Linked DNA regions of Homo sapiens. The protein of the gene in region 2 interacts with the protein of the main gene of each other region in a pairwise test. Each region holds a gene or a part of one and is shown on either strand. Other genes may lie near its edges. The genes, in order: FAM9B, FCHSD2, HDAC4, GSN, ZNF587, CCHCR1 and KIFC3.

Region 1 (3,997 bases), on a different chromosome or scaffold from region 2:
GAGTGTAACTAATATTTCACACAGCAATATAAAGTTTATGAGTTTTTGGAGCCAATTACATGTTTCTCACTAGGTAGAAAAGTTGTCCTTACTTTTCTACTACACAGTTTATTACTGGAATAATAATAGAAAATGATTTTAGAAAATTCAATTTTCTCTTGTACTTTAAAGAAAACAAAATCAGAAAGCTGTGACAATAGAACAGCTAAATTAGGAACATGAAAAACTCATATTAAAAACTCTGAGTACAGACGGACAGGAAGAGAGGAACAACAGACAACTGGGCCTACTTGAGGGTGGAGGGTAGGAGGAGGGTGAGGATCAAAGACCACCCATCAGGTACTATGCTTATAAACTGGGTGACAAAATAATCTGTATACCAAAACCCTGTGACATGCAATTTATCTACATAACAAACCTCCACATGTACCCCCAAACTTAAAGTAAAAGCTAAAAAAAACCATTGATATATGACTTAATCTGTGTATACTAAAAGGAACGAATAGAGCTGTTTCTCCTCCACTGTCCTCTAATATCCTCCAAACAATTAAATTTCCACATGTATGAAAGAAAAGCCATCCATCTCGCTTCACCATTATTAGAAGCATTCTCACATTCCACATCAACAATCAAAAAGGTAAGAAAAATTTATCAAATAGATTACATTAAATACGTACGTTAAATGCTACATATGAGAAGCCATTTAAGACAGTCTTGTCGTCCACTAATTCATATAACCTACTGCAACAGTTGTATGACTGAAAACAATTTTCATAAACTACAGATAACTCCTAAAACATACCTGCAGTATCTTCTGGCTTCTTGGTATTAGCCCTGTAAAAAAAGTTACATCAAAATTTTAACAAAATACTACACAAAATGCCATGTTTGTTGGGAAAAGAAATGTCTTATGTGAAATGTTCTGCATAGAATAGAACAGTGATGACATGGTCCAAAGCTGACTTTTCCTAAAAGACCCTATCCGACAGGCAAAAGTGACTTAAACACTTTACCCCGTGTGTTCATCTGTTTCAGCAAAAGGTTCTCTTTCCCCATGCTCATCAGTTACATCTTCCTCCCTTGTTTCTGTAAAACGGTTTCTTTCCTCACATTCATCACGGACTGGATCCTTTCCTGCATTAAAATGTAAAAGACAAACCTTTTTTAGAGGAAGATGCTGCTGTGGACATTTTTTGTGGAGAAATGTACTAGTTGTAGACTTTTTTGGGGGGGGGGGGCTCTCTGCCAATTAAAGCTTTAAAGCAGAGCTATACATGGAATCACCGGTTCCTGACCATTTTATCGAGGGACTTTTGGAAGCCCTTCGGGTTCAGGTTCCAGTAAACAACGTACTACAGTTCAGACCCCTTGGATGTCAGGACTGCACCCATGGAGAAGAGCTGCTCTGAGAGCATCTGTAACCCTGCTATGAGGGGGAGCCTTCCACGGGGAAGCCTAAGGCCCTTGAGCCTGCTTTGAAAACCTGGCGCATCTTAGCACGTGCACAATGGACTCCAGAGCCACGAAGGGGCCTGGGGCCTCGGGCTGCCCCTGTGCCCCCAGCGCAGAAAGCAGACAGACCGTCCTCTTGGGCGTGCACCTTCTTCTGGGTCCCCTTGGGCTGTATTTACCTGCATGCTTCTTCCCCCAGGCCGCCATAAATTGAGCCTCCAACTGGGCCTTGGCAGCCCTCCTGCCCACAGGATCCGTGGCTGGTTGTCCTGGGAAGCTAGAGGCGATCCCCGAACCTGGTGAGCGCAAAGACACACTAAGGAAGCTAAGGAAACCTGGCATCGGAAAGGAAAGCCATTGGGATCACAGGTTCAAGAAGGGTGGGGCTGGCCCGCCCTGGGTCTCATGTGGGAGCAGGAAGGGACGGAAAAGATGCCAGTGTCCCCTCCTGTCCTGGCCCGTCCAGCCCGTCCCCGGGGCTGGCTGCAAAGCTCACAGCTGCCCCTCACACCTGAACTCCACGGCCTCTGCGGGATCCTCGCCGCCCTTTTGGGACAGAACTCAGCCCTACCTCTGAGTCACCTAGCGACCCCATGTGGCTGGGAGGGCCGCTGGGTGACACAGGATCTCCCCAGCCACCTCTAGGGGAATGTCAGGGGCTGCACTGCCACTCGCCCCCCTGGACGCACAGGGGACCCCCGGTGACCCCCGGTGACCCCAAGTGTCCTGTCCTGTCGGGCGGCCAGGCAGGAGGGCCCCACTCAGACTGTCCCCCACAACACCCCCGCCTCACTCCCACTTCTCCCCCCCTCGGCCCCTCCCCCCAACACATGCACAAGCCCCCAGGACCCTCCCGGGCCCTAGGGATCACCCAGGCAGCTCCAGCTCCCTCCCTGCCCTGGCCCACCCCAGCCCACCCTAGCCCACCCTCAGGGCCTCGCCCTGACCCAGGCCCCAGGCGACGACGCTGGGGCCATTTCCTCACAGGTCGGCGGGCTGCCCAGCGCTTCACACCCTGGTTCCCAGAGGGCCTCGTGCCTGCGTTCCCGCCTCCCCACCACGAGTGCTTCACCTGAGGGACCCCTGATGTGGCGCCCTCAAAGAACCTGCAGGCAGCGGCACCACTAGGACCTCTTAGAAAACGGGTCCTCTCAGGAAGCTGAGGCAGGAGAATTGCTTGAACCCAGGAGGCGGAGGTTGCAGTGAGCCCAGATCACACCACTGCACTGCAGCCTAGGCAGCAAGAGCCAGACTCCGTCCCAAAAAAAACAAAACAAAAAAACAAAAAAAAAGAAAAGTAAAGAAAACGGGTCCTCAGTTCTCGTGAGAGCTGCAGGCAGGACTTCCTGCGCTCCTCGCTGATTGGTCGGCTCAGTGCACATGCGTGTGACGGGCTGTGTGGGGCCAGGCCCCCTGCTGGCACGCCCTCACCCTTCCCCTAAGTGACAGCCCGTGGTTGCTGTGGACTGGGGTGGGGGTGGCCCTTTGGGGCCTCTGTCCCCACAATCTTTCAGCTTCTCCTCCTGGGGAGAGACACAAGGACTTGGGATGGAGGCCAAGTGGACAGGGCCTAGAACCTCGCCCTGGGGCTTGTTCCAGCCACCCCTGCCCCTTTGGCTAGAATGGCCATCACCCTGTGGGTGGAGCCCAGGCTCCCTCCCATGCCCTGTGTGCTTCCAACATGCCCAGCTGCGTCCTTTTTAATCAATGGATTGTGCTTTTATCGTTTGTGTTTGTTGGTTTTTGAGACTGAGTCTCACTCTATTGCCCAGGCTGGAGTGCAGTGGCAAGATCTCAGCTCACTGCAATCTCCCCTTCCCAGGTTCCAGCGATTCTCCTGCCTCAGCCTCCCGAGGAGCTGGGATTACAGGAGCCCAACACCACGCCCTGTTGTTGTTGTTGTTGTTGTTGTTGTTGTTGTTGTTGTTGTTATTATTATTATTGCATATTCGGTAGAGACAGGGTTTCACCATGTTGTCCAGGCTGGTCTCGAACTCCTGACCTCAGTTGATCCGCATGCCTTGGCCTCCCAAAGTGCTGGGATTACAGGCGTGAGCCACCGTGCCCAGCCCATAACCTTTTTTGTTTCCTCACTACTTTTCTTTCTCATCCTCATGCCCCAGACTTGCCCACAAACCTTCATACTCCAGACTTATCCAGACATATGCCACAACCTTCACCCACAAATTAATGCCTTAATACTTATCGTTAACTCAGCTTTTTCCCACCTCCGATCCCCTGTAATAGGGAGAGAGTTGTTTCGGAGTTGGGAGTGAATAAATATTGCCTAAAGTTTGTAAATCAAGATACAGAGTTTCATTATACTATTGAAATTATAAAGGCAGTCATCAGGAAAACTAATCCACAGCCTTAAATGCCTATATAACCAAAAAGAGCACACACAAAGCATACAAATCCTGTAGTAAAAGTTGGAAAATAAAGAAAATACTACAGAGACCATAACATAACATAAAAGAACAGAATTAAGGCCAAGTGAATCTGTTGAGCAAGAAATATGAATGAGATAAACTCGCATTCTAAAGGA
Region 2 (3,500 bases):
TAAACACAAAACTATTTTAATTCTCTCTAAATTCTTAAAGACCCAAGAAAAACAAACTTTATTGAGATAATTAGGAATTTTTTTTAAAATATAAATTACCCAAAGAGGCTTTTAATATAGAAAGCAGCAAAATTGTAGAATGAAAAGAATTTTAGAAATTCTGATCACGGCTCACTGCAGCCTCAACCTCCGGGCTCAAGTGACTCTCCCACTTCAGCCTCCTGAGTAGCTGGAACTACAGGTGTGTGTCACCATACTCAGCTCATTTTTTTTTTTCCTTCTAGAGATAAGGTCTCACTATGTTGCCCAGGCAACATAGGAGTTCAACATCTTGAACTCCTTGGCTCAAGTAATCCTCCCACCCTGGTCTTCCAAAGTGTTCAAATTAGAGGGATGAGCCAGTACACCTGGCCTAGTAATTCTTTTGCAAGGTCTCATAGCTCAAAATTGATAGAGTAAGTAGAAATTGATAAACTGGATTTTAAAAATTAATATTTTTGTTGGGGGAATTGTGATGAGGCAGGGTTTAAAAATTTTTGTTCTATACAGACATTTCAGCTAGATTATAACAATGACAAATAAATTGAAATAGAGCAAAATAATCAATATTCAAACTTAACCATCTTTACATTCATATTTTACATTCTAATTCATTTTTGGGGTTATCAGAAGTTTGGGAATGAACTTTACTATTATATTTTGCTTTGCAAATGAATCTGGGCATTCAAACTTACATCTGTTCTCAAAGTCAGGAATATTAAAGTGTTAAACTCTGGACACAGATACAAATGAAATATACAAAAGTCAGAGGAATGTGATCTGTAAAAGTAGAAAGATAAATTCTGAAGAGTCCAAGAATAGGTTTTTGAGTCAGATAGACTTAGTTTGAATCCATTGTATGCCATTTTATGGCACTACTAGCTTTATGATCTTGGGCATGTTAATTATCTGAGTCGTAGCTACATCTGAAAACTAGTGAAAATGTCACCTATCTCCATAGGGTTGGTAGGTTATAATGAGGTCATATTTTAAACATTCTGGTATAGGATCTACATAATATCTTAGGCATCCAGTAATGGTAACTGTTAATGTTAAAGACCCAATTGAAAATTACTTGAAACAAAAATTTTCTTATTACTGTTCATAAGAAAATCCAGATAATTCCTAGGTTCTTAATAGCCTAAACAATGAATCCAAAATGAAGATTGAAGATATATTGAAAGATTAAGGCAGATCTCAAAGAGAATGAATTTGTAGGGAGTAGCTAGATGAGAAAGGAGGCAACTGATAGAGACATTTAATTTTTGTTACTGAGCAGCATTTTAGGAATAGGTAAAGGGGTTTAAATTGTGTGCTGGCTGCAGATGGGCCATAACCCAATTTGCCTTACAGAATTTATACCTTCTTATTGAGTATTCACTGTGCTCAGGATAGAGCTTTTCCCTTATTTTTTATGTGTCTACTAAGACTTGGGAGTCCAATGATCAGGACAGGTAACTAATGCCACTGATTGGAAGATGTGGCTTTGAGATCCTTTGGGTAGGGAATGACACAAAACTAAAACTCAAATTAATTTATCCTTTTCATGAATTCTGAAATCAAGCCATGGAATACATGTGGAAGCTCCTGAGACACAGGTCTTGACAACTGAGAATTTCATACAAGGTGAATACAGCCCAGGCTATTAAACAATACACAGAGAAATGTTCCAATACCACCTTCACTATCAAAGATCAATATAAATCAGGATCTAGTATAGATAATTATGTTTTTGTGTTTTTGTTTGTTTTGTTTTTTGTTTTTTGAGACAGAGTCTCACTCTGTTGGCCAGGCTGGAGTGCAGTGGCATGATCTCAGCTCAGTGCAACCTCCACCTCCTGGGTTCAAGTGATCCTCCTGCCTCAGCCTCCCAGGTAGCTGGGACTACAGGCATGTGCCACCATGCCCAACTAATTTTTTGTATTTTTAGTAGAGACGGGGTTTCACCATGTTGGCCAGGATGGTCTCGATCTCTTGACCTCGTGATCCACCCGCCTCGGCCTCCCAAAGTGCTTGGATTACAGGTGTGAGCCACCGTGCGTGGCTGGTAATTTTTTTTTTAAGACAGTGATATTAGCAGTGGTCGATTCTAACAAAGAAACCGTAATGACTGCTTCTTTTTAAAATGCTGGCAAATTTATTTTTATTTTTAATTTTTTGAGACAGAGTTTCACTCTGTCACCCAGACTGGAGTGCAGTGGCATGATTTTAGCTCACTGCAACCTCTGCCTCTCGGGTTCAAGAGATTCTCATTCCTCAGCCTCCGGAGTAACTGGGATTACAGGGCATGTACCACCATGCCCAGTTAACTTTTTGTATTTTTAGTAGAGATGGGGGTTTTGCTATGTTGGCCAGGCTGGTCTCGAACTCCTGTCCTCAAGTGATCCACCTGTTCTTGGCCTCCCAAAGTGCTGGGATTACAAGCATGAGCCTCCACGCCTGGCCTAGATCATTCTTTTAACATTTTTCTTTTTGGAAGACAGGTTCTCACTCTATTGCCCAGGCTGGAGTGCGGTGGTGCAATCATGGCTCACTGCAGCCTTGACCTCCCAAGCTCAAGCAATCCTCCCACCTCAGCATCCCAAGTAGCTGAGACCACAGCATATGCCATCACACGCAGATAATTTTTTTGATTTTTAGTAGAGATGAGATCTCACTATGTTGCCTAGGCCATCTCAAACTCCTGGCCTCAAATGATCCTCCTGCCTTGACCTCCCAAAGTGCTGGGATTAGAGGCATGAGCCACTATGCCCAGCCCAATATTTTTCCTTTATCTTTTAAAAATGTATTTGATACAAAAATTAGCTAGGCGTGGTGGCGCCGGAGGTTGCAGTGAGCCAAGATCGTGGCACTGCACTCCAGCCTAGGCTACAGAGGGAGACTCTGTCTCCAAAAAAAAAAAAAACTCTAGTCCCTTTAGAATAAAATATTACAATAAAGTCTTTTCAACATTCATAAAGTTATTAAATAACTTTGAAGAACTAAATTAAGGAAATCAGCATTCCAATATTCTTGATATATTAGTCTTTAAGTCATCTTAACTATTTTGTCCTTAGATGCTCTCTCAAGATATGATTTTGTTTTATTTTAAGGTTAATACAAAGGCATAGAAGGCTCAGATATCTGAGCAGAGTGAGCAGCGATAGAAAAGCTGACTTCGCAGAAGAAAACAATCAGTTTTTTAACTCTGTAACTAAAATATAACCATTTCAAGGAGAGAAAAAGAGATGGTCATGTATGATGAATGAAAATCACTAACAGTAAAATACTAGCATTCCAAACCATTTCAAAAAAAGATAGTGTTGGGGTTGTTAGGCCAATGGCATAACATTCTAGTTAACCCTCATTCAGGGAATTTGTACTACTTACATTTTTCAGTTTACTGAGAGACAAGAAATATACTGGGGCTGGGCACAGTAGCTCACACTTACAATCCCAGTGTTCTGGTAGGCCAAGGCAGA
Region 3 (3,500 bases), on a different chromosome or scaffold from region 2:
GGTCTGGGTCTAGGGGCCGTCCCCATGGGGTCCAGTGATTCCCATGCAGCCATCCGGATGGGACCCAGGGCACTGGCCATTCGGCCCACAGGGTCCCAGACATGCGAGAGCCAATGAGGAAGAGAGCGCACGGGCAGAAACCAGAGCTGGGAGGGCAAGTAACGCAGTCTTTATTTACACCACAAGATAACACGTTGCGTGATGTGGTACAGAATACTGGACTCCAGTGAAGTGGAAAGAAGGTGACCGTCAGAAGAGGATATCATTGGTCGGTGAAAATCCACCCACACAAAACAAGACAAGAATGAGAAAACCAAACACAAAACCTCCAACTCCACTGAGCAAAAGAAAGAACCATCGGGCACGTCCAGACAATCCAAGAGAAACGGATTAAATTACAGAGGTGAATGGTGGCCACGGCCAGTGCGCAGCTCACGGCGGGCGCGAACAGGCATCAGGTAGGTTACAGTGTCGTTACAACTTGGTTTTCTACCACATTCCGTAAGAAGCTCTTGGGTGAGTAAGGTTCAAGCCCCCTGTATAGATAGATAGATAGATAGATAGATAGATAGATTATATATGTTTGTCATTCTCATCAATTGGAAAATAGCGCCTCCACTATGGAGCACACACGGCAAAAAAAACAAACAAAAACTGTTCGCTTTCTTTTTCTTTCAATAGCAGACTTTTAATCAATGCCAGAGACAAAGTGAGGCCGAGCTAAGAACACGCTCAGCTTCGTTACAATGAAGAAATGGTTTCCTTTCGATGCAAAGTATAATTGTAAACCACAGTGCTCGCACAGTTCACGACTGCTTAAAGTGAAATCTTAGCCATACATCACCTAAAAGTAATTAAAAAGTCAACACAGCTGTGCGGAAAAGGGGACTCTTTCGAGTCCGCCCAGTTCTCAATCAGAATAAACCGTCACAAGGCCAGTGAGGGCGGGCGGCGCTCGCCTGGCCCGTGGAAGGAGATAAAAGGAAACAAACAAAACAAAACAAAACAAAATTCCTCCAAATCAACTCGAGAGAGACAGGCAGTTCACTGTGAATTCTGAGTAGTTTCCCTAAAACACTGTTTCCACATAAATACAATAAACTCTATTATTGGTATGTCACAAGTGCTAGATAAACTTTTTTTCTTAATATGACAAATGTTTAAGTAGTCCTTTTTATTTTTCTTACAATAAAAAGTACAATTTCTTAAGAATAAGTTCAATAAGACGCAAACTTCCCCGCCCTCCTCTCCTTCAAGGTTTTGTTTTACAGAAAAATTTCCATCTTTTGTATCTGCAAATGTCATGAGAGGGGAACAGAAAGGCATTTTTCTTCTTCCCCAAAGCTGCCGAGTTTGGCGTGCAAAATCTGTATACAATATAAAGTCATGCCGGTCGTACAGTCCATGCAACCTCCAGGTGTAGGAAACTTAAAAAAATATATTCATATATATTTATATCTATATATTTATATATGTATCAATGCCCATAAAACACGTGGGCCCAAAGTCTACAAAAAGAAGAATGGAATGAGCACGTGGCTGTGACCAGTAAAGAAGGAATGTTCTGATCAAAAAGAAAAACAACAAAGTCCATTGCTAGTGCTGCAAAAATCAAACTTGCTTTTGTGTCAGACCATTACGAAATGGTCCTTCCCCTTGCAAACAGATTTTCAAAAGAAGTAAAGAAAAACTGAAACACCTTGACAAAGTGGCCCTCCAGAACCAGAGCCCTGGGACGCTGGGGAGGGGCGGCCAGTCCCAGCGGGCCACGGCCTCCGGGACAGCCGCCTGCTGGTGGGGCGTGGGCACGTGGGCACGCTGCGGCACGGCGGGAAGCCGCGAGGGCAGGGCAGACGCCAAGAGGCCCAGTGGCGTCATCAGGGTTTCCCTCAAAGGGATATAAAGTGCTCGCTTGCTGACTCCCAGCCAGTGCCCCCAAGGCCTTTGCAAAGGAAGAAAAAGGCTAAAGGTCCAAGGACCCACAGGGAGAACACATGAAGGAACCCTCCCTGACGTGGTCCCGCCTGCAGACGCCGAGGCAGATCCTCTGCCATCTGCCCTGGACGCTTGCTGTGGAGAAGAGCCGAGTGTGTCTTCAAAGAAAAGGCTACACAGTAATGCTCTCAGCACATTTGTGAAGCTGGAGTGAGCTGACAGATGAAACGTGCCTCCCCCTGCCAGGCCTTTGCAGAGGGCGTCTCCATTTGAATGAGATTAGAATTAAGTCCCCCCACTGATAACCTGGCCACTGAGCAGTCCATGTTATCCCATCATCTGCTTAAAAAAAAAAAGTGAGATGATGCATTCCTCCCCATAAGCCACGGCGGGGTAAGAGGGCAGGTGGCAGGATCCCCAGAGGGCTATGCAGAGAATGAGGCCAAGGAGGCCAGAAGAGCCTGCTAGCTGGGCCCTGCCACTGCTCTGTGCCATGAATGGGGAATGGACCAGCTCCTCTTGCCAATCTGGGCTTCAGAGCAAAGAGTGGCCACCAGGGAGGGGAAAGTCAAACAAGTCCCAAGACCGTTCTGCCTGCTCTCAAACCACTGTCTCAGAGCTGACCATCAGCAGCCCAGTGACCAAGTGAATCCAAGAATCTGCACTCATTTGGTCAAAAGTTTGAGTTAATTTCAGAAGCTACCCTGTAAACTTTACCAAACTCCGAAACTCGGCTCTGGGTCCCTCCTGAGCACGGTGTGTCTGAACTTCTGCCCCCAAGTCTGAACCCAATATACACTTTGGAATGAAACTGGTGGCTTCATGTGCTGGAAAATAAGTTACCAGTAAAACGTGACTGTCAGTTACTGTTGAAGAGAAAAAGAGTAAAGACTGGCTGTCCTGGTCAGGCAATCATACCCTCCCTGCAGGTTCACCAGGCAACAAGGGTCCCTGGGTTCCTTGCAGCCACAGGCTCCAAAATCCAGGGCTGGCCACGTGGCTGCAGTGGAAAAACCCAAGTGGGTAAAGAGCCCCACGTGTGCCCCATGCATTGCTGACATGCTCAAAAGGTCTTTGGAAAACTCAAGTTAGAATTCTATCCTGACGATGTGGTCAGAGAAGTTTAAACATGAGTTTCATTAATGCTGACTGCCCCCGGCATCTGGCAAGCCTCCCAGGGTGGCCGGGCATCCTAAGCAACCCTCCCTGCCCTTGCCACGGAGGGGAAAAACACACCACCCCTCGTAATACTACTAGTGTTGAAAGTTAAAAAGAGCCCCTGGGCTTCTTTATACAGCTCCTAGGACAGACCAGGAAAGACACAATCGTTGGTGTCACTCCGAAAAGACCTACGGTCCCTCCTCTCACTTTCTGAAAATAGAATCTGACAGCAACAATTCTGTACGCTGCAGAAAACTCATCGTACAAAAATAAAAACAAAAATAATTAAAAACCTTTGAAAGGTAAAAAAAAATGTACAAGCAAGAATTCAGAAAGGAAAAAGATTTAGACATTATTACCATTCAGAAAATTGCTAAATGGTGAGGAAAAATGTAAAATTCATA
Region 4 (3,500 bases), on a different chromosome or scaffold from region 2:
AGACCACTGAGCCCCAATCCCCTCTTTTCTCTTCTGACTATTTCTGGTAGTTTTTGGCCCATTTAGTCACATGGTGGGATTGCCAGCCATTGTGCGTTGAGGACGTATCAATAGAGGCAAGATTCACTAGGAAAAGGAGAAGACCATGAGCTCTGCTCCATGTCACTTGGTTCCTGCTTCTCTGGGGGCATCCAATTCCAGCTTTTGGAGAGAGCAGAATGGTGATTATTATTATGGGAAGGGACCTGGACACCAACCATGGCTTGGGAGGGACAGTGGGAGTGAAAATAGGCTCTGAAGCCACAGGGATGGAGGTTCAGATTCTGGCTTAGCCACCTAATAGCTGTGTGAGTAGGTGACTTCATCTTTCTGGACCTCAGATTCCTCTTCTGTAAAATGAGAGTGATAATCTGTGCCTCCTGGCCTGGCTGCGAGGATGCAGTGACATCTTTTAAAGGTAGGCGGTAGAAGGTGTTCAGTAGCTATAGTTATCACAATTAGCCGGTAGGCGAAATATCTGAAGCGCTGTCTGGAGGCAGAGGAGCAGGAGTGTTCTCCTGGAGTTTCTGAGTCAGGGAGACAAGGTGGAAGGGACCTCTGATGGACAGATCTGGACATGTGAGCAGATGCAGGATGTGTCTGGAGGAGGTCAGACTCCATGGGGAGGGTCACAGTGGATGTCCTTGTGATCCTTGCCTGCCTGGGAGCTATCTCAGGAGCCTGGCCCCTCCCTCACAGCCACCCTTCCTCTCCATCTCTCTATCTCCTACAGGTGCTGGGCCCCAAGCCGGCTCTGCCTGCAGGTACCGAGGACACCGCCAAGGAGGATGCGGCCAACCGCAAGCTGGCCAAGCTCTACAAGGTGAGCACCAGATGCACTGTCTGCCTGGGCATGGGGTCAGGACAGGGAGGTGGAAGACTTGGTCTTCCCCACTCCACTGCTATGGGACCTTGAGCAAAGCACCCCTTTGGAGGGGGGCCTCAGCTTTCTCACGTCTCCAGTGGATGCTCGTGTACTTCCTTTGCTTTCCTGCACTAAGAGCATGCGATCAACTCCGTACATATCTGTGTCACGCTCATACATGAGGTCTCTCTGAGTCTCAGTGTCCTAGTCTGTAAAGTGGGAAGAAGAGCAGAATGGTCGACTTTGTAGGATTTCTGGGAGTCCACAGATAAAATGGATGTGAAAACAGCTTAGAAAATACTTGGGGAAATACTACAGAAATGGTGTGTATGTGGGGAGGTTGGGGGTGTGGGTTATAGTTAATGACTTTATTTATGATTTCTTTCTTGTGATTTTCACAACTGAATTCAGGCTTAGCTTCAGCTAGGGAACTCTCTTGGCTGAGCTCTGGGAGAAAGCTCAATCACACTTACGTTGTGCCCCAAGTATTTTCAGTAAAACAACAAAAAGGGGATGTCGATTTTCACCACTGCCAAAGAAAAACTACTACATTATCGATTTTTTTTCTGATTATGAAGTAATACATGTTTATTGTAAGAAAAAAAAGTATTCAAAATATAAAAAGAAAATAAAAGTCCATGCAATTTCACTGGTTTAAAAAACCAGTATTACTTTTAAAATATGTTTTAATTACAAAAATGACAATACCCAGTTAAAAAATCAGCCTCTCCTCCTCATGAGAGAACACATCTTTGTCCAGCCACAGCTTTCTGTGCCTAGTTACTTTTCCATTTCCATCTTATTATTTTATTTTGAGATAGGGTCTTGCTCTGTCACCCAGGCTGCAGTACAATGGCACAATCACAGCTCACTGCAACCTCTGCCTACCGGGCTCAAGCGATCTCTTGCCTCAGCCTCCTAAGTGGCTGGGACTACAGATGTACGCCACCACGCCCAGCTAACTTTTGTATTTTTTGTAGAGACGAGGTTTTGCCATGTTGCCCAGGCTGGTCTCAAACTCCTGGGCTCATGTGATCTGCCCACCTCAGCCTCCCAAAGTGCTGGGATTACAGACCTGAGCCAACGCTCCCGGCCATTTCTATTTTGTGTAACTGGATCCAAACTATTCATGCTGTTGTGTGGTCTTTTTTCCACTCAACATGGTCGGGAATATCTTTCTATAATAAATCTCAACACGACCCTTTATAACAGCTGTATAGTATTTTATTTTATGAATGTAAGAATTTAAGCAAATCCTGATTGATGGACATTAGGATGTTCCACCTTTTCCAGTTGCAGACAGTCCCTCTTGGTGCACTTGTGCTAAGTACAGCATAGCACTAGGGCAAGTTCCTAGACAAGGAACTGCTGGTCACAGGCCGAAGAATGAGTCAGTAGTTGAAAATACTGGTTCTGGGCCAGGCATGGTGGCTCACCCCTGTAATCCCAGCACTTTGAGAGGCCGAGGTAGGCGGATCACCTGAGGTCAGGAGTTCGAGACCAGCCTGGCTAACATGGTGAAACACTGTCTCTACTAAAAATACAAAATATTAGCCAGGCGTGGTGGCGGGTGCCTCTAATCCTAGCTCTCCTCCTAAGGGAGGAGAATCACTTGAACCCGGGAGGCGGAGGTTGCAGTGAGCTGAGATAGTGCCATTGCACTCCAGCCTGGGCGACAACAGTGAGACTCCGTCTCAAAAATAATAATAATAAATAAAATAAAAAAAGAAAATACTGGTTTTGGAGTCAGGAGTCAGACTACCTGTGTTTGAATTCCAGGTCAGCTATTTCTAGCTGTGCAAGTTCCTTAACCACTCTGTGCCTTGGTTTCCTTGTGAATGAGACAGGGATAGTAACAGAACTATCATATGCAAGGATTAAAGGGGTTCTATAATTATACAAGTTATAGAAATTGCTTAGAACAGTGACTGGCACAGAGTAGTAAGTACTCAATTCATGTAGAATAATTATTATTTAAAGGACTGCTACCTCACAGTCAACTGTACTCTGGAACAGCTCCCAAATTACTGTCATCAGGGATCTTAAATGCCTGTTTACCCAGAGCCTTGCCAACTGGATATTGTTAAACTTTTGAATTTTGACTCTTAAGATAGAACTTTTTTTTGAGCTTGGTTGAACTTTTTATTTTAGAATAATTTTTAAGTTTACAGAAAAATTGTAAAGATAGTACAAAGAGTTCCTATATACCATTCACTCAGCTTCTCCTTAGCATCTTAGCATAACCAGGTACATTTGTCAAAACTAAGAAATTAACATTGCTTCAGTACCATTAACTAAACTATAGACTTTAGCCAGATTTCCCCAGTTTTTTATTCTAGGTTCCAATCCAGGATACCAGATTGCATTTAGCTCTTTTTACTTTTCTTTTTCTTTTCTTCTCTTTTATTTACTTATTTATTTTTGAGACAGAGTCTGGCTCTGTTACCCAGGCTGGAGTGTAGTGACGCAATCATAGCTCACTATAGCCCCGACATCCTGGGCTCAAGTGATCCTCCCACTTCAGCCTCCCAAGTAGCTGGGGCCACAAGCAAGCGCCACCACACCTTGCTACTTTTTGTATTTTTTGTAGAGATGG
Region 5 (2,879 bases), on a different chromosome or scaffold from region 2:
CAGTGTCCCAGATAATCTTCTTCTGATTGGGACATTTCCCTGGGAACAGTGGTTACTTGCCAAATTCACATTTACGGCCAAAACTGTGGCTGCAGTGTCGACATTCATGCAAGTGGGGAAATGGGCATGTGACCCCTGAAAAAAGATTCTGGATTCCATAATCTCACCTTGCTGAGAAGAAACTGCCATTTCAGCAGAAAGTGCAATGACAGTTTCTGCACAGGGACTGGAGATTATCTCTAGAAAAGAGCTTGGAGTGAGGAAATTAGTTAATGTGGATGAATGACGTTACCCATGGAGAATGAAGTAAGTAGCTAGAAGACAAAAGCCTCAGAACACATAAATCTCAATGGGTATTGAGTAGAGGACTCAGAGCTCTGAGATAATTGGAGCTCATGGCTATCCTAGAACTTGGATAACATAAAGTTCTTGTTTCTACAAAGTGTGTATCCTTTCCATATGTGAGAACTGTGAGGAAGTACAAACTTGGAACAAAAGAAATAGTAAGGTAATCTTAGAAAGATGTTGAAAAGAAAGCTATGGTGGCATCTTAACTGTTTCACTGCCTGGCAATCTATATGTATTGTCACTTTGGGACGCTTATGATTCCACATGAAGTGGATAACCAGCTCATAGTTCTTGTGGTACTGAAAACCAAGTATTCAGCCAGGTACAGTGGCTGACACCTGTAATCCCAGCACTTTGGGAGGCCGAGGCAGGTGGATCACTTGAGCTCAGAAGGTAGAGAGCAGCCTGGGTAACATGGTGAAACCCCATCTCTACTAAAATAAATAAATAAAATTAGCCAGGTATAATGGCACATGCCTGTAGTCCCAGCTACTCAGGAGGCTGAGGCAGAATCGCTTGAACACAGGAGGTGGAGGTTGCAGTGGGCCGAGATCATGCCACTTCACTGTAGCTTAGGAGACAGAGCTAGACTCCATCTGGAAAAAAAAAAAAAAAAGAAAACCAAATATTCCTTGCAGCAAAGTGACATCACTGAAGAATGAATGAAGTCCAACATACGTCTTTGTTATTTCATTATTTTTAAATATATTAATGAAATGGGAAATAGATAAAATTCATTTTAAAAAACAAGCCTACAGGTGAGGCCAGGCAGGGTGCCTCACCCCTGTAGACCAAGCACTTTTGGAGCCTAGGCAAGTGGATCGCCTGAGCCCAGGAGTTCGCGATCAGACTGGGCAAAAAGGTAAAACCCTCTCTACAGAAAATACAAAAGTTATCCAGTTGTGGTGGTGCATACCTGTATTTCCAGCTACTCTGGAGGCTGAGGTGGGCAGAGTGCTTGAGCCCAGGAAGCAGAGGTTGCAATGAGCTGAGATTGTGCCACGGTACTCTAGCCTGGGAGACAGAGCGAGACTTTGTCTCAAAACAAAAAAAATGCAAAACATAAACCACTGACTCAAAAGTTATAACCACTTATTAAAATAATAAACAATTTCAAATACTAACCATACTCCCTCTTGGTAAGATAGAACAGAAATTCTTGGACACTGATGGTAGATAGATATACAAATGAGCAATAATTTCATTCTTAAGTCATAGTTTGGCATTGCTTAAAAAGTTGTACATTAGGCCAAGCACAGTAGGTCACACCTGAGAAGCTGAGGCAGGCAGATCACTTGAGGTCAGTTCATAACAAGCCTGGCCAGCATGGTGAAACCCCATTGCTAATAGAAATAAAAAAAAAAGTTATCCAGGCATGGTGGTGCACACCGGTAATCCCTGCTACTCGGGAGGCTGAGGCAGAAGAATCAGTTGAACTTGGGAGGCAGAGGTTGCAGTGAGCCGAAATCATGCCACCTAACTCCCGCCTGGGTGACAGAGTGAGACTCTGTCTCAAAAAAGAGTTGTACTTTAATCTATCACGTGACTCAGGCACTGCACACCACCATATTACCATAGTGAAACATACCTACATGAACAACTGCATTCAAATATAGCAGTTTCATTTATAACAGACAAAAACAAGAAGCATGTCATTCTTTTTTCTTTTTGTAGAGAGGAGGTCTGGCTATGTTGCCCAGGCTGATCTCTAACTCCTGGCCTCCAATGAACCACCTTGTCCTCCCAAAGCATCAGGTTTACAAGCATGAGCCACCATGCCTGGTTCAGCATGTCATATTCTAAGCAATACGAAAAGAATGAAGGCCAGGTGCAGAGGCTCATGCCTGTAATTTCAGCACTTTGGGAGTCAAGGTGGGTGGATCACTTGAGGTCAGGAGTTTGAGACCAGCCTGGCCAACATGGTAAAACCCCATCTCCACTAAAAACACAAAAATTAGCTGGGCGTGGTGGTGTGTACTCATAATCCCAGCTACTCAGGAGGCTGAGGTAGGAGGATTGCATGAACCCAGGAGGCCCAAGTTGCAGCGAGCCAAGACTGCACCACTGCACTCCAGCCTGGGTGACAGAACAAGACTCCATCTCAACACGAAGTCGCTTAAGACCGAGGACAGCAGACATTCTGATGTTTTCCACATTGACAGCACTCATAAGGCCTTTCTCCAGTATGAACTCTCCTGTGTTTAACGAGACGGGATGCTTCAGCAAACGATTTCCCATATTCACTGCACTCATAAGGCCTTTCTCCTGTGTGAACTCTGATGATGAAGGAGGGTAGAGCTTCGCTGAAATGTTTTTCCACATTTGGTGCATTCATAAGGCCTTTCTCCAGTGTGAATTCTCCTGTGTTTAATGAGACTGGAACATTCAGAAAAGGATTTTCCACATTCACTGCACTTATAAGGCTTTTGTCCAGAATGAACTCTTTTATGAACATGAAGCGCAGAGCTGGAAAGAAATGATTTCCCACATTCACTGCATTCATACGGCCTTTCTCCAGTGTGAATCCTCTG
Region 6 (4,287 bases), on a different chromosome or scaffold from region 2:
CTAGGACTCAATGCAAAATTGGTTAAGCCGACTTGCAAATGAAAAATTCCAGGAAGGTCTCCGTGCAATGCAAACTCAGGAACACGTCCTATGGCACCTCACTTGAGCTGGATCCTCAGATCGCAAAATATTTGGGGAGCCTCCAATCTGCAAGGCAAGGATACTTTAGGCAGCTCCTGTGTGTGTCGGGGTGGCGGGGCGCGGGGAAGGAGGTCCTGTTATACACACGTCTACGTGCAATACGAACACATCACCTCTGTGTAATTCGGAGAAGAGTAGCTTCTTCCTGTCAAACTTGCTTATCCTAATAGAGCACTCCTGCTTGCCTGCGCCCCGATCTTCTGGCCAATCCCTCACTCATAACTGGTTGAACCTCCGAGGGCAATGAATCCACTGTCATCCCCCAAAAGAAAGTGCAAACGAGTCCTTAAGTACTCCAACAAATTGGACCTAAACCCCTACTTCCCGGCTTCTCTAGGTGGGATAAAAACAGGAAGGAGCTCCCCGCGATCATGCAAGGCATACCCGGCCTTTTCCCACTCCGCCCCAGCCCCGTTTCGGATCTACCCGCGCGGCGCAGTCTCCGAGTAGCCTCCTCTTCAAGCAGTGCCAGCCTGTGCGGCGGATCCCGGGACCCCTTGGGCTCCTCGGCAGGAGCCGACGTTGCTGCATCTGTTTGACAGCCAAGAAGCCGGGGCCAGGAGGGGCGCGGCCTCTGCGCGCGGGCAGCGCCTACCCCTCCTTCGGAATTCCCGGGCCCGAACTTCGCGCCGAGCGAGCCCGCCCCCGTGCCGTTCCCGATTGGCCAGCTCATGTGTTCTCTTCCGCGCCATTGGACAGCGCCCCAAGATCTCCCGCCTTCCACTTTTTCTGATTAGTTCACAAGTTTTCCCGGGTTGCCGCAGTGAGGAGGAGCCGCCTGGGCGCGGAGATGCTCCGACGCATTTAGTGGGCCCAAATTTAGACGCCACTGCGCCTGCGTACACCTTTCCCCCTCCTCCCAACAGAGTGAAATAGGACTTTAGGGCGCCCGCCTTGCGCAGGCGCGGTCAGGGGCAGAGGCGGGGCCGGGAGCGAGGCGTAGGGGGTGTGGCCAAAGCGCAGTAGGGGGCTCTCGCGGTTGGTAAGGGACGTTCGGGAAGAGTCGGTTGGGGGCGGGAAGGGGCTGAGCGGGGGTCCTGGGAGGGTTCAAGGGGTCCAAAGGGGAAGGGGGTACAGGGGCCAGGTGAAGGGACAGATGAAGAGATCAGAACAGCCTTAGAGCTCACGGGCTAACTGGGTGAAGCCTCGGGTATCTAGGGGAGCAGTGGTGGGAGAGTAGAGCCGGCTAGCGTACAGGGGGCGAGGGCAGGCTATTGAGAGATGGGGGTGAGGGTCAGGACCAGAATAATTCCTTCAGAAAAAGGTAGATTAGGTTGTAAAAAGGGACGGGAGTAGGGATCCCAGATTCGGGTAAAAAATAGATTAATGAGGGTGGGAGGGTGGGAGGAAGATCTTAAAGTGCCCACTATGTGTTAGGACTCGAGAAAGAGGAGGCGGGCAGCAGGCATGGAAGCTAAGGGGATAGTAGAGAGAAGCTGAGAGAACAGCCGCAGGAAAGATTTGAATAAGATGTCAGGACGCTGGCTTTTCTGCCTGGGGATCTAGGCGGCCTGGATTCCCAAGGTCTTGGGGAGGGTCTAGCCCTGCATGTGGCCACATTCAGCTGGGGCCAGGCCTTGGGCCAGCACTTTAACAGGGAAGGACCCAAGAGTCATGGCCTGCTGGTGTCTGGATGGGCTTCCCTCAGGCCTTGCTGAGCCATGGAGAGAACTCTGGAGATGGCGCTCAAGACCCCTGCACTGTGTACCTCCTTTCTCACCTCTGGCCAGGAGCAGCAGGGACCATAGAAACTTAAGGAGGAGGGTAGAGGCACTGCCCAGAATCCTGAAAGTATGAGTAAAGCCTCAGAGCCCCTCTCAGTCTGTCTCTTTCAGTAAATTCTCTCCACTTGATAGTTGCTTGGGTTCCATGAGGAACCAGGTTGAGACAAGCAAGTGAATTTGGGGTATCTCCTACTTTGGGGAAGTAGGAAAAGAGCTAAGCATCGGGTGGACCTGGCTATAATTCAAGGATTATGACTTTGTTATTGTAGGGGCTTTCTCTTTGGAAGGTGGCCTGAAAATTGAATTGGAGTGTCTTTGTTTCTCCTCTTGTCCAGGGGAACATAGATGGCTGGAGACAGAATCTAGAGCCTTCAAATAATGTGGAGATGTTTCCACCTTCAGGTCAGTGGGACCAGACAAGGGGAGTGGTGGTTGTCTCTGCCTGGGAAACTGACCATCTTTGTTTTTGTAATTCTTCAGGTTCCACTGGGCTGATTCCCCCCTCCCACTTTCAAGCTCGGCCCCTTTCAACTCTGCCAAGAATGGCTCCCACCTGGCTCTCAGACATTCCCCTGGTCCAACCCCCAGGCCATCAAGATGTCTCAGAGAGGCGGCTAGACACCCAGAGACCTCAAGTGACCATGTGGGAACGGGATGTTTCCAGTGACAGGCAGGAGCCAGGGCGGAGAGGCAGGTAGGGATCCATCCACGCCGTTTTCTCAGGCTTGCTTGCTAGTGACCCTTCCTCACTGGAATAAACTCCTTACCCTATTTCGGCCCTAGTTTCCAGAACGTACTCATTTTTATGTAAGCAATTAGTTCCTACAGTGCATAAATAATAAAGCAGTGTGCTAAGTGCTAGGGATGAGGATAACAATAGTGAATAAGACAAATCCTGACTTAAATTTGTAATTAATAAGGAATCTAAAATCCTAAGAGGGGAGATAGATTGACCACCAGCTGATGGTAAAGCATGGTATGAGGCAAGATGAAGAAGTGCAAACTAGAGGTAGAGACCCAGCACTGTGGCAGTGTGGGTTCATTCTGATGGAAGAAAGCCTTTACAGAGGACATGCTGTGGGAGCTGGCCATGCTGTCGTATTATCTGTAAACATTCTTATTCTTGTTTCATGTGTCTTTTCCCAGATGTACTGGGATATCATTCTGCCATTTTGCTCCAGAATAGGATTACATTAGAAGAAGCAGCATGATGAAGAAGGAATACTAGACTGGGTGTCAGGAGACAGAGACTCTATTTCTAGTTTGGCTACCAGCTAGAGGACATTTGGCAAGTCACTTAATTTCCCTAGCCTACAGATCGCTGCTACTAAAGAAAGAAAGAAAGAGCGAGCCAGATATGGCGGCTCACACCTATAATCCTAGCACTTTGGGAGCTGAGGCAGGAGGATCACTTGAGCCCAGGAGTTCATGACCAGCGTGGGCAACAAAGCGAGACTCCGTCTCCACAGAAAATAATTAGCTGGCTGTGGTGGCATGCATTTGTAGTCCTAGCTACTCAGGAGGCTAAGGTGGTAGGACCCCTTGAGCTCAGAAGTTGAAGACTGCAGTGACCTATGATCCAGCCACTGCATTGAGGCCTGGGTGACACAGTGATACCCTGTCTCTAAAAACGACAACAACAACAATCTCTTATAGTCCTGGGTCTCAGAGAGCTGCCTCAGGAGCCATGTTCCAAGCTGGATTAAACTTCACGTGACATTGGTAGACGATTTCTCTAAAGGCTGGCACTGTGTTATTTATGTACTGTTCTCTCAGACTCCTCATAAAGTATACCTAACACTCAATAAATGCCTTTTTTTTGAGATGGAGTCTCACTCTGTCGCCCAGGCTGGAGTGCACTGGGGAGATCTTGGCTCACTGCAAGCTCTGCCTCCCAGGTTGACGCCATTCTCCTGCCTCAGCCTCCCAAGCAGCTGGGACTACAGGCACCTGCCACCATGCCCAGCTAGTTTTTTATATTTTTAGTAGAGATGGGGTTTCACCGTGTTAACCAGGATGATCTCGATCTCCTGACCTCGTGATCCGCCCGCCTCGGCCTCCCAAAGTGCTGGGATTACAGGCATGAGCCACCGCGCCCAGCCAATAAATGCCTTTTAACTAGCACCTGGCCTCACCATATTGATACTGGAAGCTTACGACCTCTCTATGCCCATTCCTCCCTCAAACTTCTTGCCCTTAAATTAGAATTGAGAAGTCCCTGTGTGTTCTTCCAACCTTTCCACTTAAAATGTGTGGCCTAAAAATAAAAAAATAAATAAGACAAAAAAACCACCAAAAAACAAAAAGAATGTGTGGCCTAATGATATACACATTTGATGTTGAATCCTCCTGTATGTAGCTCTCTCTAGGGAGATCATGTTCCACGATCTCAGCCAGACTTTAGGTCCTGTGAGTCCAGGCA
Region 7 (3,500 bases), on a different chromosome or scaffold from region 2:
AATCATCTCCAGGTTACTTATAATATCTAATACAATGAAAATGCTGGGTAGGGGCTGGGTGCAGTGGCTCATGCCGGTAATGCCAGCACTTTGGGAGGCGGAGGTGGGCGGATCACCTGAGGTCAGGAGTTCAAAACCAGCCTGGCCAACATGGTGAAGCCCAGCCTCTATTAAAAATACAAAACAAACAAACAAACAAACAAAACTAGCCCGGCATGGTGGCACACGCCTGTAATCCCAGCTATCCAGGAGGCTGAGGCAGGAGGGTCGCTTGAACCCGGGAGGTGGGGGTTGCAGTAAGCTGAGATCCCGCCATTGCACTCCAGCCTGGGCAACAAGAGTGAAACACTGTCTCAAAAACAAAAAAATGCTGTGTAAATAGTTGTTATATGTTATTTTTTATTTCTATTATTTCTAATTGTTGTACTGTTAATTTTTTTCAACTATTTTTGATCTGTGGTTGTTTGAATCTGGGAATGCAGAACCTGTGGATGGGGGAAGGGCCTACCATATATTCTCACACACACACACACACACACACACACGCACAATTGGCTTAAGCATGCTCAGAACAGTCGGGGGAAATGCTGAGAGGCCACATTGGAAGAGTTGGGTGGGTGGCAGAGAGGCCTTTCCTATTCACCTGATGCCCTGCTATGGAGTTTGACTTTTCACCACGTCCATGTATTACTGATATAGTCTTTTAAAGGAGAAGAACTATATTCTGTTCCCAAAATATATTAGTCTTTGCAAAGCTATCATACAAATTCAAGGAGCTAACGGCTATAAACAGCTCGACATGTAGGAGGCACTTAAGAGGCACTGGTTATTCTCATATGTACAAGTACAGCTTGAAAGAATTAAGTTAAACCTAACAGAGGTAAGACTGTATCGGCCAGTCATGGTGGCTCACACCAATAATCTCAGCACTGCGGGAGGCCAAGGCAGGAGGACTGCTTGAAGCCAGGAGTTCAAGACCAGCCTCGGCAACATAATGAACCCTGTCTCTAATAAATAATTTTTTTAAAAAATACGTATGTAGCATGTTTTTTGTTTGTTTTTGAGATAAAGTCTCGCTGTCACACAGGCTGAAGTGCAGTGGCATGATCTTGGTTCACCGCAACCTCCGCCTTCTGGGTTCAAGTGATTCTCCTGCCTCAGCCTCCCGAGTAGCTGGAATTAACAGGCACCTGCCACCCATGCCCAGCTAATTTTTGTAATTTTAGTAGAGACGAAGTTTCGCCTTGTTGGCCAGGCTGGTCTCAAACTCCTGACCTCAAGTGATCCGCCTGCCTCGGCCTCCCAAAGTGTTGGAATTACAGGTGTGAGCCACCGCGCCTGGCCTGCATGTTTGAAATATGAAGTTATCTGTAACATGTTTGGTTTAAAGAATCATAGTAAGACAAATAGCCGAATGCCTGCCCTGAGCAGTCTAGTTTCAAACAGGGCCTATAAGGGCAGCAGTAAGTGTCATGGGGGGTGGGGCAGGGGCTGCTGTCTGAGCGGCTTTGTCTGAGCTTTGGAGGGACGCCCTGAGTGGATGTCGTGCCTCTCCCAGTGCACCCCCTTAGCCTGGACCCTCCCACCCACTGCCCTCGCTCACCTCGGCCTTGACACTCCTGAGGGCCTCCTGCAGCAGCAGTGGGAAGCCGCGCACCTGCCGCTTGAGCCCATTGTAGTCGTTGGTGAGGGTCCGCAGTGCCGGCTGCAAGGTCAGCAAGTTGGTCCGGACGCCTATGGGGACACTCGGGCTGTGAGGCGGGAGGGGATGAGGGGCCGCGGCGTGGGGCAGACAGGGCCCAGCTGGTCAGCTCACCTGCTAGATTCTCGTGCACAGCCTTCATCTCCACCTGGGCTCTGGCAAAGGCCTCCTCAATGGCCCGGTTCTTGTCCTCTTCCAGGGACTGCATCTCCTCCAGCATCTGCCCATGGGCCCGCTCCAGCTCTGACTCGTACATGGCAATCTGGCCAGACCAGGAAAAGGCTCAGTACCTCGAGGTGCGGGAGAGAGAGGGGCAGGTGCCACACCGAGAAAGAAACTGGTCACCTCCCATGCACATGAACACACATGCACACACACATGTGCACACCCAGAGGGGCAGAATGGCCTTGTCTCCCTCCCCCTACAGGGCTGTGAGCTCTGGGCATTGGCTCCAACACCAACCCAGTGCTGAGCACACATCAGGTGCCCAAGCCACGTGCCCTCAGGAAGGTAGGAGAGGGCCTCTGTGATGACAGTGACAAGTGCCATGTAGAGCTTACTGAGCACAGCCTGTGTGCTGGGCCGTGGGCACAAAGCTTCTTGGGATGACGTTCCTGAGTCCCCACTGTGAGGTGGGTTCTGGGACCAGATCGTGTTATAATAGATGAGGAAAAGGAAACCAGACAAAACTTGCCCTGGGTCCCGTGGCCATCGGGGAGAGGAGGGACTGGACCCCGTGTCTGTGGGGTACCCAAATGTTTAACCGATGCATTGGCCCAAGGGCCTGCCTCTGGCTTCCTGGCTGGGCATGTGCCCCCACACAGCCTGGGTACCTGCGCCCGGAGCCGCGCGGTCAGCTGGTGTGAGCTCTGCAGCTGCTGTTCCATCTCCTTCAGCACCTGCCTCTGCATAGCCACCTGCTCCTGCAGGTGCTGGTTCCGGGCCTGGGACTCGCTGAGGGCCTGCTTGGTCTTGGACGACTCCACCTCCACTGTCTTGATGACATACTGCAGGGTGAGGGAGGAATGGCACGTGGAGCCAGCGGGCACCGTACCTCACCCAAGAGCCTGAGACGCAGCAGGCCAGGGGAAGGAACTCTCGGGAACATCCCACTCAGAAACCAGAAAAAAACTAGAGGAGCCTTGAGGTCCTGGCTTTCCAGAAAGCTGGGGGGGTCTCCTGGAACCTTCTCAGCTTAACAAGAGGCTACTATGAGCCTGGCTGGGGCCCCATCCTGGGTACAGACAAGAAAGGCAAAAAGACGAGGGCAGAATCCAGGGGCTGCGCTGCATCTGTGCCTGGCACCTCAGCTGTTGGATACCTACTCGGTGCCTGGCCCTGGATACAGGAAGGGGAAGGGGCAGGACCAAGCACAGAACTGGAATGATTCTTCCACCCACACACACCTACCTATTCACCAGGACAAGCCCCCCTTATGGGCTAGCCCTGCCCCAGGTGCCAGGGGCCTTGGGCTGAGGCACAGATCAGGTGGGCCAGGGCTCACCTTGACAGGTGGGGACTGGGCCCGCAGGCTGGCAATGGTCTCGTGGCTGTCACGCAGGCGCCGACTAAGCCGCTCCTCCTCCTGTGCCTTCTCAGCCAGGCAGTCCTTGAGTCGCAGCTCCACCTCAGCCAGCCGGTCGGTCTTCTGCTGCACCTCTAGGTTCAGCTCTGACAGCATGCCTTTGCTTTCCGCCATCTCCAGCTGCAGCTGGGACAGCTTGTCACGGAGCTGGGCGCTCTCCTGCAGCCATTGGGAGGCACTGGATGAGTGCAAGGGACAGGCTCACTGTGAGGA

What was found.
Region 1: the proteins of FCHSD2 (region 2) and FAM9B interact in binary tests that used the Homo sapiens proteins (3 or more experiments, as listed by UniProt).
Region 3: the proteins of FCHSD2 (region 2) and HDAC4 interact in binary tests that used the Homo sapiens proteins (3 or more experiments, as listed by UniProt).
Region 4: the proteins of FCHSD2 (region 2) and GSN interact in binary tests that used the Homo sapiens proteins (3 or more experiments, as listed by UniProt).
Region 5: the proteins of FCHSD2 (region 2) and ZNF587 interact in binary tests that used the Homo sapiens proteins (3 or more experiments, as listed by UniProt).
Region 6: the proteins of FCHSD2 (region 2) and CCHCR1 interact in binary tests that used the Homo sapiens proteins (3 or more experiments, as listed by UniProt).
Region 7: the proteins of FCHSD2 (region 2) and KIFC3 interact in binary tests that used the Homo sapiens proteins (3 or more experiments, as listed by UniProt).

Annotation. Positions count from the first base shown.
Region 1 is NC_000023.11:9,031,328-9,035,324, forward strand, and holds the start of FAM9B (protein FAM9B), read right to left. Parts: upstream 2,801-3,997; 5' UTR 2,525-2,800; intron 1,957-2,524; exon of another isoform or gene 1,795-1,956; coding exon of another isoform or gene 1,660-1,794; coding exon 1,632-1,659; intron 1,135-1,631; coding exon 1,014-1,134; intron 835-1,013; coding exon 803-834; intron 1-802. UniProt on the Homo sapiens protein: May play a role in meiosis.
Region 2 is NC_000011.10:72,890,819-72,894,318, forward strand, and holds part of FCHSD2 (F-BAR and double SH3 domains protein 2), read right to left. Parts: intron 1-3,500. UniProt on the Homo sapiens protein: Adapter protein that plays a role in endocytosis via clathrin-coated pits. Contributes to the internalization of cell surface receptors, such as integrin ITGB1 and transferrin receptor.
Region 3 is NC_000002.12:239,048,021-239,051,520, forward strand, and holds the end of HDAC4 (histone deacetylase 4), read right to left. Parts: 3' UTR 148-3,500; downstream 1-147. UniProt on the Homo sapiens protein: Responsible for the deacetylation of lysine residues on the N-terminal part of the core histones (H2A, H2B, H3 and H4).
Region 4 is NC_000009.12:121,313,162-121,316,661, forward strand, and holds part of GSN (gelsolin), read left to right. Parts: intron 1-772; coding exon 773-862; intron 863-3,500. UniProt on the Homo sapiens protein: Calcium-regulated, actin-modulating protein that binds to the plus (or barbed) ends of actin monomers or filaments, preventing monomer exchange (end-blocking or capping).
Region 5 is NC_000019.10:57,859,859-57,862,737, reverse strand, and holds part of ZNF587 (zinc finger protein 587), read right to left. Parts: coding exon 2,598-2,879; 3' UTR 1-2,597. UniProt on the Homo sapiens protein: May be involved in transcriptional regulation.
Region 6 is NC_000006.12:31,155,003-31,159,289, reverse strand, and holds the start of CCHCR1 (coiled-coil alpha-helical rod protein 1), read left to right. Parts: upstream 1-1,487; 5' UTR 1,488-1,689; coding exon 1,690-1,905; coding exon of another isoform or gene 1,906-1,932; intron 1,933-2,134; exon of another isoform or gene 2,135-2,200; coding exon 2,201-2,267; intron 2,268-2,345; coding exon 2,346-2,559; intron 2,560-4,287. UniProt on the Homo sapiens protein: May be a regulator of keratinocyte proliferation or differentiation.
Region 7 is NC_000016.10:57,767,992-57,771,491, forward strand, and holds part of KIFC3 (kinesin-like protein KIFC3), read right to left. Parts: intron 3,447-3,500; coding exon 3,207-3,446; intron 2,710-3,206; coding exon 2,536-2,709; intron 1,965-2,535; coding exon 1,817-1,964; intron 1,735-1,816; coding exon 1,604-1,734; intron 1-1,603. UniProt on the Homo sapiens protein: Minus-end microtubule-dependent motor protein. Involved in apically targeted transport. Required for zonula adherens maintenance.